Homo sapiens: one gene and its partner. The protein of the gene in region 2 purifies or fractionates together with the protein of the main gene of each other region. This does not show direct contact. Each region holds a gene or a part of one and is shown on either strand. Other genes may lie near its edges.

What was found. The genes of interacting proteins can lie anywhere in the genome.
Region 1: the proteins of GNAI2 (region 2) and SLC60A2 purify together in Homo sapiens (affinity purification with mass spectrometry; 3 studies listed by BioGRID and IntAct, with this or other methods). This does not show direct contact.

What each region holds. Positions count from the first base shown.
Region 1 is NC_000006.12:111,254,925-111,262,349, reverse strand, and holds the start of SLC60A2 (sodium-dependent glucose transporter 1), read right to left. Parts: upstream 3,012-7,425; 5' UTR 2,650-3,011; coding exon 2,623-2,649; intron 94-2,622; coding exon 1-93. UniProt on the Homo sapiens protein: May function as a sodium-dependent glucose transporter. Potential channels for urea in the inner medulla of kidney.
Region 2 is NC_000003.12:50,253,184-50,259,865, reverse strand, and holds the end of GNAI2 (guanine nucleotide-binding protein G(i) subunit alpha-2), read right to left. Parts: coding exon 6,682-6,682; intron 3,675-6,681; coding exon 3,546-3,674; intron 3,144-3,545; coding exon 3,014-3,143; intron 2,930-3,013; coding exon 2,776-2,929; intron 2,367-2,775; coding exon 2,176-2,366; 3' UTR 2,152-2,175; intron 1,499-2,151; 3' UTR 504-1,498; downstream 1-503. UniProt on the Homo sapiens protein: Guanine nucleotide-binding proteins (G proteins) are involved as modulators or transducers in various transmembrane signaling systems.

The DNA.
Region 1 (7,425 bases), on a different chromosome or scaffold from region 2:
ACCCACAAAAATGAAAGACAGACTACTGATATTTCGGTTCACGTTTGTTGCCAAATCTTGAAACGTGGGTCCCACTATAGCAACACTCAATCCCTAAAATTTAAAAAGACAAAAGTTTTTACTTATAATCATTAAAATAATGTCTAACTATGTGGTAGTTTCTTCCACTATAAAAAAAAAGGGGGGCGGAGGGTCTGGGATTTACAATGTAATGTAGGGAATTAGACTACTGTTTTTTTAGTTTTGACTAAAACTCTTATTTTTTTTTTGTTTTGACACCTCTCAGTTTTTAAAAAATTATTTTTTTGTTGCAATCCTGTTTCCTTTCTGAACAATACCTTTAAAAGACTATTCTGTATTAATAAAATGTAATATTAAAACTATTTTTGAAATGGTTTCGTACATTTTGAAATATATTACATGCACAAATAAGAATTTGGGTATTAAAAATTTAAATTGGCCGGGCACAGTAGCTCACGCCTGTAATCTCAGCACTTTGGGAGGCCGAAGCAGGCGGATCACGAGGTCAGGAGTTTGAGACCAGCGTGGCCAACACAGTGAAACCCCATCTCTACTAAAAATACAAAAATTAGCTGGGCATGGTGGTGGGCGCCTGTAGTCCCAGCTACTCGGGAGGCTGAGGCAGGAGAATCGCTTGAACACGGGATGCGGAGGTTGCAGTGAGCCGAGACTGCACCATTGCACTCCAGCCTGGGCGACAGAGCGAGACTCTGTCTCAGAAAGAATAAATTAATTAATTAAATTAAGTCAGGTGTGGTTGCTTACACCTGTAATCCCAGCAATCTGGAAGGGAGAGATGGTAGGACTGCTTGAGCTCAGGGTTTTGAGATCAACCTAGGCAACCCCATCTCTACAAAAATAAAAATGAAAAAAATCAGCCAGGCGTGGTGGCGCATGCCTGTAGTCCCAGTTACTAGGGAGGCTGAGATGGAAGGATCGCTTAAGCCCTGAGGTCGAGACTGTAGTGAGTTCTGACTGAGCCACTGGAAAACGTCAAAACCTTGATCAAAACATCAAAATATGATTCCTGTTTTTTATGTTGTTAAACAGCAATATTTCTGGATGCACATGGAGTCCTTCCCCTGAACTATACATATAAAACATACAGGAGATAAACAATTTAAATGTTTCTAAATCTACACTTTTCTTCCACGCCATCAGAATTAGTCAGTAAAGGTTGCTTAAAAAATATTACACGCCCAAGTACAGAATGACTTTAACAATAAAACTTTACTCAATGCAGTGTCAGCAAGAGGTAAGGATTACAATTGACTTTCAGAGGAAATTCATTGGACATTTAAAGAAAAAAATGTTTCCAATCAGTCTACATTTCCAGAATAACTGATTCTAATTGCCCTGCTCTGCTCTAAATGCATGGGGTGCGCCCCCTGCCCAACTCGTAACAGTCCAAGACCACGGACCACTATGGGCCCAGGTGCACAGCAAGCACCTCGTACTTCGAGAGAAGCCTGAGCACAGAATCTAATCAAATTAGTTCATGTCTTCAAAGGATTTACAACAGGACCGGACAAGTCAGTGACGACTCACCAAAAGTCTGAAGTGATTTCTTTCTTCACCCCTCCCCACCGCCCCCAATCAAAATACTCTAAGAAACAACTGTGGCTCAGAGTCCCTGAGATGGTAAGTGACCACACATGACTCTTGGGAGGACTCATCCTCTCAACTCCCCCAGGATCATAATTATCAAGTGATAAGGAGGAGGTTTCCGAAAAGTGAATTGAGTGGCGACCCAGGGGTTTGGCAAAAGGCGCCTCTAGGCTTGCCCTTTGCTCCAAGAAAAACATTTAAGAATCTAAAGGTTGGTTTTATTAATAAATAGGATGGTGGGCAGAGTAAAAGACATATTTCTGGCTCTATCACTTAACCAGCTGTGTGATCCAGAAAGTCACTTTCCCCTCCGGGCCTATTTCCTTATCTGCAAAATTAAGCGGTTGGCTGAATTTGGTCAGATCACCAGGAAGAAATTCCAGAAAAGTAGTTTTTCTGTGTAATAATTTGGGGGTTGAGTGGGTGGGTGCGGAGAGCAGCGGCCAAAGACCTGGTGAACCCCTCTTGCAACCTTCCCATCCGACGAAGGAGACGTAGGAAGGCTTGCCGGGCCGGGCGCCGTGGCTCACGCCGGTAATCCCAATACTTTGGGAGGCCGAGGTGGGCGGATCACCTGAGGTCAGGAGTTTGAAACCAGCCTGGCCAACATGGCGAAGCCCCGTCTCTACTAAAAATACAAAAATTAGCCGGGCTTAGTGGCAGGCGCCTGTAATCCCAGCTACTCGGGAGGCTGACGCAGGAGAATCGCTTGAACCCTGGGGGCAGAGGTTGCAGTGAGCCGAGATCGCACCACTGCACTCCAGCCTGGGCAACAGAGCGAGACTCCGTCAAAAAAAAAAAAAAAAAAAGCTTGCTGGAGCTGAAAGACGTATTCAGAAAATCTATTTCCTCCAAGATTAGAATTGTGCCCATTTTCTAGATGATGAAACTGAGGCCCAGTCAGATTAGGTAACGCGCCCAAGGTCAGTTTGCAAGTGGCGAAGGCAAGACTCGAACGCCCCGGCCTGGGAGTGTTGCAGCCCCGGCTCTCACCAGCCCCAGGAAGGAGGCACACAGCATCAAGGTGGTGAACCACCGCAGCTTGCTCCCGGTCCCACCGCTCTGCCAGGAGACCACCACCACCTCCGGCTCCGGCTCATTCTCCGCCGGGGCCTCCGCCTGCAGGAGCCGCTGCCCCGCAGCCGGGGGCCCGGCCCCACGGAGCTCCACCTCTAACTCCAGCTCGGCGGCTCCGGAGAAGTCGTCTTGCTGCCGCCGCGCTTCTCAGCAGAACTTCTGGAGCTCCGAGAAGAGCACTGGCCCCGACCCCAGGCACGGGTGTCCCTCCGGGCGCCACCTCCCAGCGGACCGCCCGGAACCGGGGCAGAGAAGAGGAACTTCGGCACGCCGCAGGTGTTCGTGGCAAAAGACGCTCGCTCTCCAGCAAGCAGGCGCATGCGCGGGTCACGTGGCGGAAATGTGGCCTCTCGCCAACCGCTATCGTGCCTCAAGCCGGAAGTTGATATGGTTGCCTAGGAGACCGGACGTAGCTCTCTAGCCTAGGCATCATACTTAGCTGAGCTCACAGAGGCTGGCGGACGTGCGCCCCATGGCGGAGCGAGCTGAAGTTGCAGCCTGGGACCAGGGAAATCAAGAGGTAAAAATGCGGCCAAACCATTATGAGGAAAAGGGGCCAAGAATTACACTGTAGCGCCTCGCGCCGGCTCCCCGGTCTCCTGGGGAGCGAAGGGAGCCTGAAGAGCTGGTCCTTATACAGCTTTCTGAAATCCCTGAGATCTGTCAATGAATCGCGCATCTTTCACTCCACAAGTATTTGTTGAACGTCATTGTGTAAGTTATCACGTATATTATCTCAACCCTCACAACACTCCAAATTCCACGTTATCCCCGTTGTACAGATAGAAAGATTAAGTCATAGAAAATAATTAACAATCTGCCCAAGCTCAGTCATCGAATTAGTGGCCGTATATAAACAGTGTAACAGTAGCTCAAGAAAGAAATCGGGATCCAAAGCTGTGGTTTCAAACACAATTCCTGAAATAATTCCAATTCCTGAAATAATTCCATCGTTGTAAAGAAGTGGAGCGTGGCATCGATTTGAGGAATTTTTTTTATATACTTTAAGTTTTAGGGTACATGTGCACAACGTGCAGGTTAGTTACATATGTATACATGTGCCATGTTGGTGTGCTGCACCCATTAACTCGTCATTTAACATTAGGTATATCTCCTAATGCTATCCCTCCCCCCTGATTTGAGGAATTGTTTTCCTTTTGCTCTTTAACAAAGCGTACCACAGCCTCAAAATGTTATATACTTTTCTTTGTGGTCTATTTGAAATGTTCTTTTCCACCTGATTCTTCCAACTTTCATCCACTTAGGCTCCCAGACTACAAACCTTAGTCTCATCATCCCTTGCAACCCGTCTCTCCAGACTTATTCGTTTAGTCATTAAGTCTTCCCCCCACCCGCACCCCCACTTTTTTTTTTGTTTGTTTGTTTTCTTTTTTGAGACAGAGCCTATGTCGCCCGGGCTGGAGTGTTGTGGCGCTTTTTGGTAGAGACGAGTTTTCACCATGTCGGCCAGGCTGGTCTCGAACTCCTGACCTCAAGTGATTCGCCTGCCTTTGGCCTTCCAAAGTGCTGAGATTACAGGTATGAGCCACCATGCCCCGCCAAGCATTTCTTTTTTATTTATTTATTTATTTATTTATTTATTTATTTATTTATTTATTTGAGACGGAATCTCGCTCTGTCGCCCAGGCTGGAGTGCAATGGTGCGATCTCGGCTCACTGCAACCTCTGCCTCCTAGGTTCAAGCGATTCTCCTGCGTCAGCCTCCTGAGTAGCCGGGATTACAGGCGCGTGCCACCACGCACGGCTAATTTTTTTATTTAGTAGAGACGGGGTTTCACCATGTTGGTCAGGCTGGTCTCGAACTCCTGACCTCATGATCCGACCGCCTCGGCCTCCCAAAGTGCTGGGATTACAGGCGTGGGCCACCGCGCCCGGCCCGCCAAGCATTTATTTTAGAGCAGGTCAGCTGGCATTCCTTCATATGAGAATGTCTTTATTTCACTTTGATTCCTGAAAATATTTTCACTGAAAATAGAGTTCTGGGCTAACCGTTATTTCCTTTCAGCACAGAAAGATGAGATTTCTATTCGAGTTTTAGCTACCCATGCCACCCAACAGTTCCCAGCTGGGGTCTCTCCTCAGGACAAACCACAAGAAAAGAAGAAAAAAGCCAGGAAATTCATCCCCTTGCAGGTTTCTAAGTTTTGACTCCCTACCTCAATTCTTTATTTACTTTTCAGAGGCGGCAGGTAGTTGCCATTTGTATTTTGTCATGAGTCTTTCAGTCGTAATCAGTGAGAGAGGGGCTGAAGTAGACTAATGACGCCAAACCAGGACTTTTCTACCTATCTTTGGAGAATCCATGTTAAAACAAACAAACAAACAAACAAACAAACAAAACCTACTTTGGTAGGTAGTCTTTTCTCACCTGCCTTTCAGCCTTGAGGCTGGTTTAGTTTCACAACTATATAGTTGTGCTGCTCCTAAATCTTGTCACAGGTTTTACCTCGTGTTACAGTTCTTTTAGCACTTATCTTCAGTTCCTTAGTAGATTATAAACTCAATGAGATTGAAACTATGGATGTTATATGTCTCTCCCCTAACATTGTATTACATACTTAGTAGCTATTACCTAACTGAATTGATTAATTACCTAACTGAATTGAGGTTCAGTAAAGCCATTTTTAAATTAAATATTTTAATTCACCCTGATTAAATGTAAAAAAAAAAAAAAGAAAAAGCCTTCTCTAAATGGAAAGATCTACTTTCTGATTCTTCATTCCCCACTTCACTCTTGAAAGCAGCAGTATATTTTTTCCAGTTGCCTCCAGAGGTCACCCACCACCTTTGAGAAAAAAAAAAAAAAAAAAAAAAGCATAAACTACAGCATTGCTTCATGCAGATTTCTCTTAGATCAATAGTGAGGATCAAGTTTTTTCTTGAGAGGCAATTTCAGAGAAATAAAGTGTCTATGAGCCACATTTTCTACTGAAAATAAATATAGCTTTATTGATTCTCTTAAAAAATAAGTATTTTACAATGTATATGGCTTAATTTATCTAAAAGGAAAATATCTGGATTTTAGTCACTAATCTGGTACTATCTGGGTGTATTTGTGAAATAGTAACAAGAAGGCAGGTTTTAATCTTTCAACTTAACTTTTTACTTTGGGTGAGAGAGAGAAATTAGACAGATCATGTTTGGAGACTGCATATCACTGTGAGGACCTATTTAATTTTTATTTGCCAGAAGGACCATCCTTTTTACTTATCATGTGATGTCCAATTTGTGCTTACAGTGCATCATGAAGAACTAAGTGTCACCATAACTGTTTCTTTCTGTATACTAAACTATCATTCTTTAACTTCACTGCTAAAAACCCAGTCTATTAAAACTATCTCTCACGAAGATTTAATTTCAGTTAGACAACTTTTATGGTTTATGCTATGTACTTTGAAAAGTTAGAAATAATGTTGAAATGATCTGACATTGGTGATGTTTGATAGAATAAATTATTTATCTTATTAAAAATTAAAACTTACTGATTTTTAAGTTTCCTTTTTTAAAAGGTATAAACTTAAAATTTTCTTCTTTCTTTCTTTATTCTTTCTTCCTTTCTTCTTTCTCTGTGGGGAAAAGCAAGAGAGATCAGATTGTTACTGTGTCTGTGTAGAAAGAAGTAGACATAGGAGACTCCATTTTGTTCTGTACTAAGAAAAATTCTTCTGCCTTGAGATTCTGTTAATCTATAACCTTACCCCCAACCCCGTGCTCTCTGAAACATGTGCTGTGTCAACTCAGAGTTAAATGGATTAAGGTCGGTGCAAGATGTGCTTTGTTAAACAGATGCTTGAAGGCAGCACGCTCCTTGAGAGTCATCACCACTCCCTAATCTCAAGTACCCAGGGACACAAAAACTGCGGAAGGCCGCAGGGACCTCTGCCTAGGAAAGCCAGGTATTGTCCAAGGTTTCTCCCCATGTGATAGTCTGAAATATGGCCTCGTGGGAAGGGAAAGACCCCAGCCCGACACCCGTAAAGGGTCTGTGCTGAGGAGGATTAGTATAAGAGGAAGGCATGCCTCTTGCAGTTGAGACAAGAGGAAGGCATCTGTCTCCTGCCTGTCCCTGGGCAATGGAATGTCTCGGTATAAAACCCGATTGTATGTTCCGTCTACTGAGATAGGGAAAAACCGCCTTAGGGCTGGAGGTGGGAACTGCGGGCAGCAATACTGCTTTGTAAAGCATTGAGATGTTTATGTGTATGCATATCTAAAAGCACAGCACTTAATCCTTTACATTGTCTACGATGCAAAGACCTTTGTTCACGTGTTTGTCTGCTGACCCTCTCCCGACAATTGTCTTGTGACCCTGACACATCCCCCTCTCGGAGAAACACCCACGAATGATCAATAAATACTAAGGGAACTCAGAGGCTGGCGGGATCCTCCATAATGCTGAACGCTGGTTCCCCGGGTCCCCTTATTTCTTTCTCTATACATTGTCTCTGTGTCTTTTTCTTTCTTAAGTCTCTCGTTCCACCTTACGAGAAACACCCACAGGTGTGGAGGGGCAACCCACCCCTACATTTCTCTCCCTCTCTCTTTTTTTTTTTTTTTTTTTTGACAGTCTTGATCAGTCACCCAGGCTGGAGTGCAGTGACATGATCATAGCTTACTGCAGCCTCGACCTCCGGGGCTCAATCAATCCTCCGGCCTCAGCCTCCCAGTAGCTGGGACTACAGGCATGTGCCTCATGCC
Region 2 (6,682 bases):
GTAGTATGGCCACCTGTCACTACCCTTCAGGTTTGGCGGCGGCCCTCTGGGGCAGGGAACTTTCTGAATATGTCTTAAGGCCCCTACTGGCCTTTTTAGTCAAGCCAGGACTGCATGCGGCCCACCTGGCTGTGTGGCCTTGGCAACGGACACTCTCAGGCCTTGGTACCTAAGTCGGAAGTCACTTTCTCCTTCCGCGCTAGAGAGGCCGGCCACCCCTCCTGCTCCAGGTGTGGAAGAGCACCTTACAACAGCTCCCTTAGAAGCCTGCCCAGCTGCCCGAGACCCAAGGCTGCAGAGTACTGGAAGGGCGGGGACACACGGGCCCCACATGTATGCTGCCTAGTCCAGGTGGGAGAAATGAAGCTCAGAGCGTGGGGCTCCAGGACGGCCCGGAAAGCTGAGTCAGGGCCCTGACTCAGGTTGAGGACTGAGGTTAGGACCACCATCACCTTGGCACACCTTAGCCCAGGCCTCTGCCCCTGGGAGAGAATACCCATCAGTTCTCGGTATTTTTTTTCTTTCTACATTTTATTATTTCAAACCAGGTGAACAATTCCATAAAACATGTGAAAAAAGCAAGGAAGTGTTCAACGCTGAAGGCCCCGGGCCTGGGACAAGGGCATGAGGGGCGTGGCCCCCCAGCAGGCAGCGGCGGTTCCTAGGTTAGCGCTAGGGAGCTACATTTTAGGTTAATAGAGCCTGGGGCCAGGGCCGCTGGGGCAGGGCCCTCAGTGACGTTGGCAGTTGTCTGGAACAGCCCTTGGAACCCAATTCTGTGGAGGGCAGGGCAGGGGTGCCGCTCGCACGGGGGCGGCCAGCAGAGGGACGGGTGTAAACACGCAGACACACTCAAGGCACGGAGTCACTTGGAAGGGGGGCTGGGGGGGGGCTTGCTGGTCAGGATCTGACAGTTTTAAATAGTTTTTCTCTAAAAAGTTTTCTAGATTTGCAGTTTTTTTTTTTTCCTTTACTTTCATTTTTTTAAAAAGCTACGAGAATGAGCAGGTGGACTGTGGTTTCCAGGAATGGTGGCGTCTCACGCTTCTTGTGCTTTTTCCTTTGGGGCCTCCGAGCGGCTGGGGTTGGGGGACTGGGCAGGAGGCTCCCTGTAAACATTTGGACTTGGGCTGGGGCAGGGGCTGGTGTTGGGCAAAGCTGGGGGTCCAGGCTGGAGAAGCAGGGGCCCCTCCAGACGCAGCCTTGGGAGACTCAGCATGTGCCCCCCTCCCCTCATCACAGAACAAGACAATGGTTAAAAACCAGAACAGATGCCCAGAAGGGGGTACCATGGCCATTACCAGCATCTCAGACAAGGGCAGGCTTCAAACAGGGAGGCCTGTGGCAACCCCTCCCCTACGTCTGGAGCTGAGGGGACAGGGGGAGCTGAGAACAAAGAGAGGAAAGAGGAGAAAAGCGGCGGGGGAACAGGCGGGGAGCGTGATCTTCTTGCCCCCATCTTCCTCAGGGGTTGGGGGGTACAAAGTCGGCGGTGGCCCTGGAGGTGGGGGAAAGCAGAGCATGGATCGGGAAGCAGCCAGGGCGTGCCTCTCTCCCGCCTCCCTAGACAATGACCCTTCTCTATTTTTCCTACCCATTTGTTACCAGGGACACAGTTGCCGCCCAGGAGCCAGTTTCTGTTGCTGGGTTACGTGGGGGAGGGGAGTCTGTGGCACTGGGAGAGTCATCCCCACCTCCACCAGGGCCAGTGGGGCCAGCCTAAGCCCGGGACGCTCAGACAAGTCAGAGGGCAAGAGCTGGAGGTGCACATGGAGCTGGTGGTAGTGGGCAGCAGGGCTGGGCTCCGCTGGCATGCAGCTTCCGGCAGGCTGGGCCAATGGCCTGGTGGGTGAGGAGGTGAGATTTCTCCAGGGAACATCAGGATGGCCTCTGGTTCTGTCCCAGGGCAAGGCCAGGCCCTTCTGTCTGGACCACTGGGCCAGGCCTGCTTGTATGACCTCCTCCATGCCCTGCACCTCACTCACTTGACCTCCTGATTCACACCCTGGGCCTTCTCCTCCCTTGTCCCCTGGTCACCTATTGCCCCTCCCCCTCCAGGTTCACCCCCCTACCCACCCCCAGAACCCCCTGCTGGGGCTCCAGGCCCGCTTAGTTCTTCCCCAGCACCCTGCCACAGCCCCTCTGGCTCACCATCCCGCCAGGCCCCGCTGCCCCTCAGAAGAGGCCGCAGTCCTTCAGGTTGTTCTTGATGATGACATCGGTGACGGCGTCAAACACGAACTGCACGTTCTTGGTGTCGGTGGCGCACGTGAAGTGCGTGTAGATCTCCTTGGTGTCTTTGCGCTTATTCAGGTCCTCAAACTTACTCTGGATGTAGCTGGCTGCCTCATCATATTTGTTGGCCCCTGGGGGAGAGAAAATGAAGACTTGTGCTGCATGTGTGGCAGGCAGGCCGCATCCTACGTGTGCAGCAAGGGTCTGTGCGTGTGGACGGCCAGGCATACAACCTGTGCATGCATGTGCATAATATGACAATGTTTGTGGCTGCCCATACATGCCAGATGTGCAAAGGGGTACCCCACTGTGTGAAGGAGGATGCCCATGTACACATGTTCAGGGGTACATGCTTGAGTGTGTTAAGGGCTTCATGTGTGCACACACAACTATACAAGCCTAAGTGAGGCACCAGCCCCTGCCAGTGTTCCAAGGTTACACTTCTGTCCAGTGGGGGGCGCCTGAGGGCCACCTGGTCACCATAGGCTACTTGGGACAAGAAGCAACCCTCTGGAGGCCCTATCCCCACAGTCCCCACACCTGTGTACTCAGGGAAGCAGATGGTCAGGGGACTGTGTGTGATCTTCTCCTCAAACAGGTCCTTCTTGTTGAGGAAGAGGATGATGGACGTGTCTGTGAACCACTTGTTGTTGCAGATGCTATCGAATAGCTTCATGCTCTCATGCATGCGGTTCTGGGGGTAGAATAGCAAGGTCAACGCTAGCCACCACTCCCCAAGCCCGCTGCCCCCACCCGCAGCATTCTCTCATCCTCTCACCATCTCCTCGTCCTCAGCTAGCACCAAGTCATAGGCGCTCAAGGCTACGCAGAAGATGATGGCTGTGACGCCCTCAAAGCAGTGGATCCACTTCTTCCGCTCAGACCGCTGACCACCCACATCAAACATCCTGCAGATATAGATCACCTTAGTTCCAGGAAGGGAGCCTGGGGGAGGCTTTCTACCCCATTTCTCAGGTTGGCTGACTGAGGACAGAGGCCTGCCCAGAGTAGGGCAGCTACCTTCTGGAATCATCCACACTTGCCCACTTCACCCCTGGTTCTGGGCCAGGAGCTTGGACAGCAGGCAGGCTGCAGCCACATCAGGCAGGAGCAGCAGAGGCTGTGAGCAGCTGGCAGAGGTGGCGTGGATCCTGACTGCTGGTTCACTAGGTGGTGAGGATGTGCTTGCCCAGAACACATGAGCCTTGTAAAACCTCAGTGGGGCTGGGGGATCCTGGACCAGCCCCTGCCTCTGCTACCCCAGAGGCTGGCAGGTCCTGCCCCTCCCACCTGTCCACATGCTCGCTCACTTGAAGTGTAGGTCCTTGAAGGTGAAGTGTGTCTCCACGATCCCCGTGGTCTTTACGCGGGTCCGTAGCACATCTTGCTGTGTGGGGATGTAGTCACTCTGTGCAATACGCTCCAGGTCGTTCAGGTAGCTGGGGATGGGGGGTGGGAGGGTCAGTGGGGGCCAGCATGGGGCTTCCTTAGCTGGACCCTGGGCCAGCTGCAAGAGGCCCCTTCCCTCCCATGCCATTTCTCAAGCACAGCCCTTGCTTTTTTTTTTTTTTTTTTTTTTTTTTTTTGAGACAGAGTGTTACTCTGTTGCCAGGCTGGAGTGCAGTGGCATGATCTTGGCTCACTGCAACCTCTGCCTGCCAGGTTCAAGCGATTCTCCTGCCTCAGCCTCCTGAGTAGCTGGGACTACAGGCGCCTGCCGCCCAGCTAATTTTTGTATTTTTAGTAGAGACGGGGTTTCACCATGTTGGCCAGGATGGTCTTGACCTCTCAACCTCAGGTGATCCGCCCACCTCGGCCTCCCAGAGTGCTGGGATTACAGGCGTGAGCCACTGCGCCTGGCCTAGGCACAGCCCTTGTTTCTTTAACCCCTGCCTGCATTACCTCATTGCTCAAATGAAGAAACCTGAACTCAGAGCCCCCGGCCTCCCACCTGTAGAATGGGAATGGGAGGAGGTGCAGCTCTGTGGACAGCTAGCCAGCCAAGCTCCAGCACCCAGGGTCTGAGCCAGACCTGCCTCGGACAGGATCCAGGATGTTGGAGCTATAGGCAAAGAGGGTGGGAGGAGGCAAATTAGTCCTTCGGTGAAGGATTCAGGATGCTAATGGGCGCAATTACGGCATTAGCCGCAGAGCAGCCGGGTGCGGTCCCTCGATGTGGTGCTGGACAGGTTGGGGCCTGCCAGGTCCAGTGGGCTCTTTGCCCAGCGCCCAATGAAATCTGGGTTCCTCAGGGGGAGGGCACAGACACCTGCTTGGCAGGGGTCCCAGGGGCTCCTCATTACCAGTTCCCTTAATTAGTATCAAGGCTACCCCTGCAGGGCCTGCCTCTGCTGCCTGCCTCAATATCCCTGCCATGCCCTGGAGGCTGGTCCCAGGCCTCCAGGCTGCTGCCCAGAGCTGACTTTTCATTCCTGGGGCAAGGCTGCTGGGGCTGGCCCTTGGCTCCCACCAGCACCCAGGCCAAACCAGGCCAGAGGGAAATGATCTCAGAGTAGCAGGGACAAAACAGAAAAACAGGAAGGGCCATGGGGAAGGATGACGCATGTGCTGTGACCCGCATACCATGCCCCGCCCCCTACTGCCAGAGTCCTCAATGTGGAGGTACCATGGTGCATTCCACACCAGCCTCTCCCTTTTCCCCAACAGGTGGGTTCGCCCCAGGGACCCCCTGACTCGCTGCACACTTGGAGGGTTGCTGCGAAGAGGGGCTGAAGGAGCCCTGCTTCCTGTGGTGTTCCAATCCGCAACCCATTCCCAGGGGGAGCTATCAAGGCTTAAACCTGACTGGGAGAACAGGGCCTGTATTCACTCCCAAAACTGTGCTGGGCACACAGTGGGTGCCTAATGTCTGGAGAATAGAGAAAGAGGATGATGGAGAAGCAGGAGGTGGCCTGGAGGTGGCTCTATTCCTGCTTCCTTTGAGTATCATGGGCACCAAGGTCCCTGCTGCTCTGACCCCAAGCTCGCTGGTGGCTGGGCCAGAGATCTCAGGGAGGGGCAGTGGTGAGGCCTGGGGGCCCCCACAGCATTTGGCTGTGACTCCACAGCTCCTGTAGGGGGTACATATTCACAAGAGCATTCAGGCCATGTAAGAAGGGTAGGAGGAGGCTGTTCATGTGGCTTGGACAGGGCTCAGGAATCACAGCCAGGCAAGACCCTCCTCCTCCTCCCACCCACCCTTGCTGAAATCCACCCTATGGGTAGGCTCAGGATTGGATGAACAATAGGAGCAAAAGGGTGTTCCAGTCAGAGGGGACTGGCTTAAGCAGAGATAGGGGAAGGCTAGAGTACAGGGACAGCAGCCTATCTGGTGACACCATCCAAAGCCTGTGGATGTCCCCTGCAGCCATCCTCAATGGCTATTAGCCTGTCTATCCTGTTCCCCGTGGGGTCCTCAGCACCCTGCACCAGTCCAAGTACATGACAGATACCACAGGGAAGGAGTTCAGAACTGTGGAAAGGGTGCAGGCTTGTCATGCCTCTGGGATTCCTGGGACCCCTTGTAATTCCTCAGCCTAGGGCCAGCGAGGGTCACAGCTGAGGTCCAGGGGCTCTGACCTACACACACACCTGTCACCTCCCAGATAACTTCCTCCCCTGTGGCCCCCTCCAGCCAGCCTCCACAGCCTATGTTCAAGCACAGCCAGCTCCCCACCACCCCGAGATGCTGCACATGCTATGCCCCTGCCTGGAATCCCCTCATCCACTCCTCCCCTGGCTGACTCTCCTTCAGAGCTCAGCAATCCTGTCTCTGGGCCAACTCCACCTCTACCTTTTCACTAACACCCTAAATTGTCACTGCATGGGGACTTTGCTCCACTCATCACTGTGTCCTTGAAGCCTGGCACAGAACAGGTGGCAGCAAATGTTCTGAGTCTTGCTCTGTCACCCAAGCTAGAGTGCAGTGGCGCAATCTCCGCTCACTGCAAGCTCCACCTCCCAGGTTCACGCCATTCTCCTGCCTCAGCCTCCTGAGTAGCTGGGACTACAGGCGCCCTCCACCACGCCCGGCTAATTTTTTGTATTTTTAGTAGAGACGGGGTTTCACCGTGTTAGCCAGGATGGTCTCGATCTCCTGATCTCACGACCCGCCTGTCTCAGCCTCCCAAAGTGCTGGGATTACAGGCGTGAGCCACCACGCCCGGCCGCAAATGTTCTTTAGAAGACTGTCAAGACAGATCAGACTCAACTGGCCTGGAAGAGATGTACTGTATAAGCCACCTGCCTGTCATTCCTCCTGGCCTTTCAGTAACGTGACACCCACCCACCCCCCAAACCAAAAAACAGGAAGGCCTTGGTTAACAGTCATCGGTTTCATAAGCAAAGACCAGCAGTGTCCTTCTGGGGGTTCTCAGGCCCTCCGGTCCAGCCTTTAGTCCTCCCCCAGCCCCTGCCCTGCCCTGCCCAGCCCCTCAGAGCACTCACT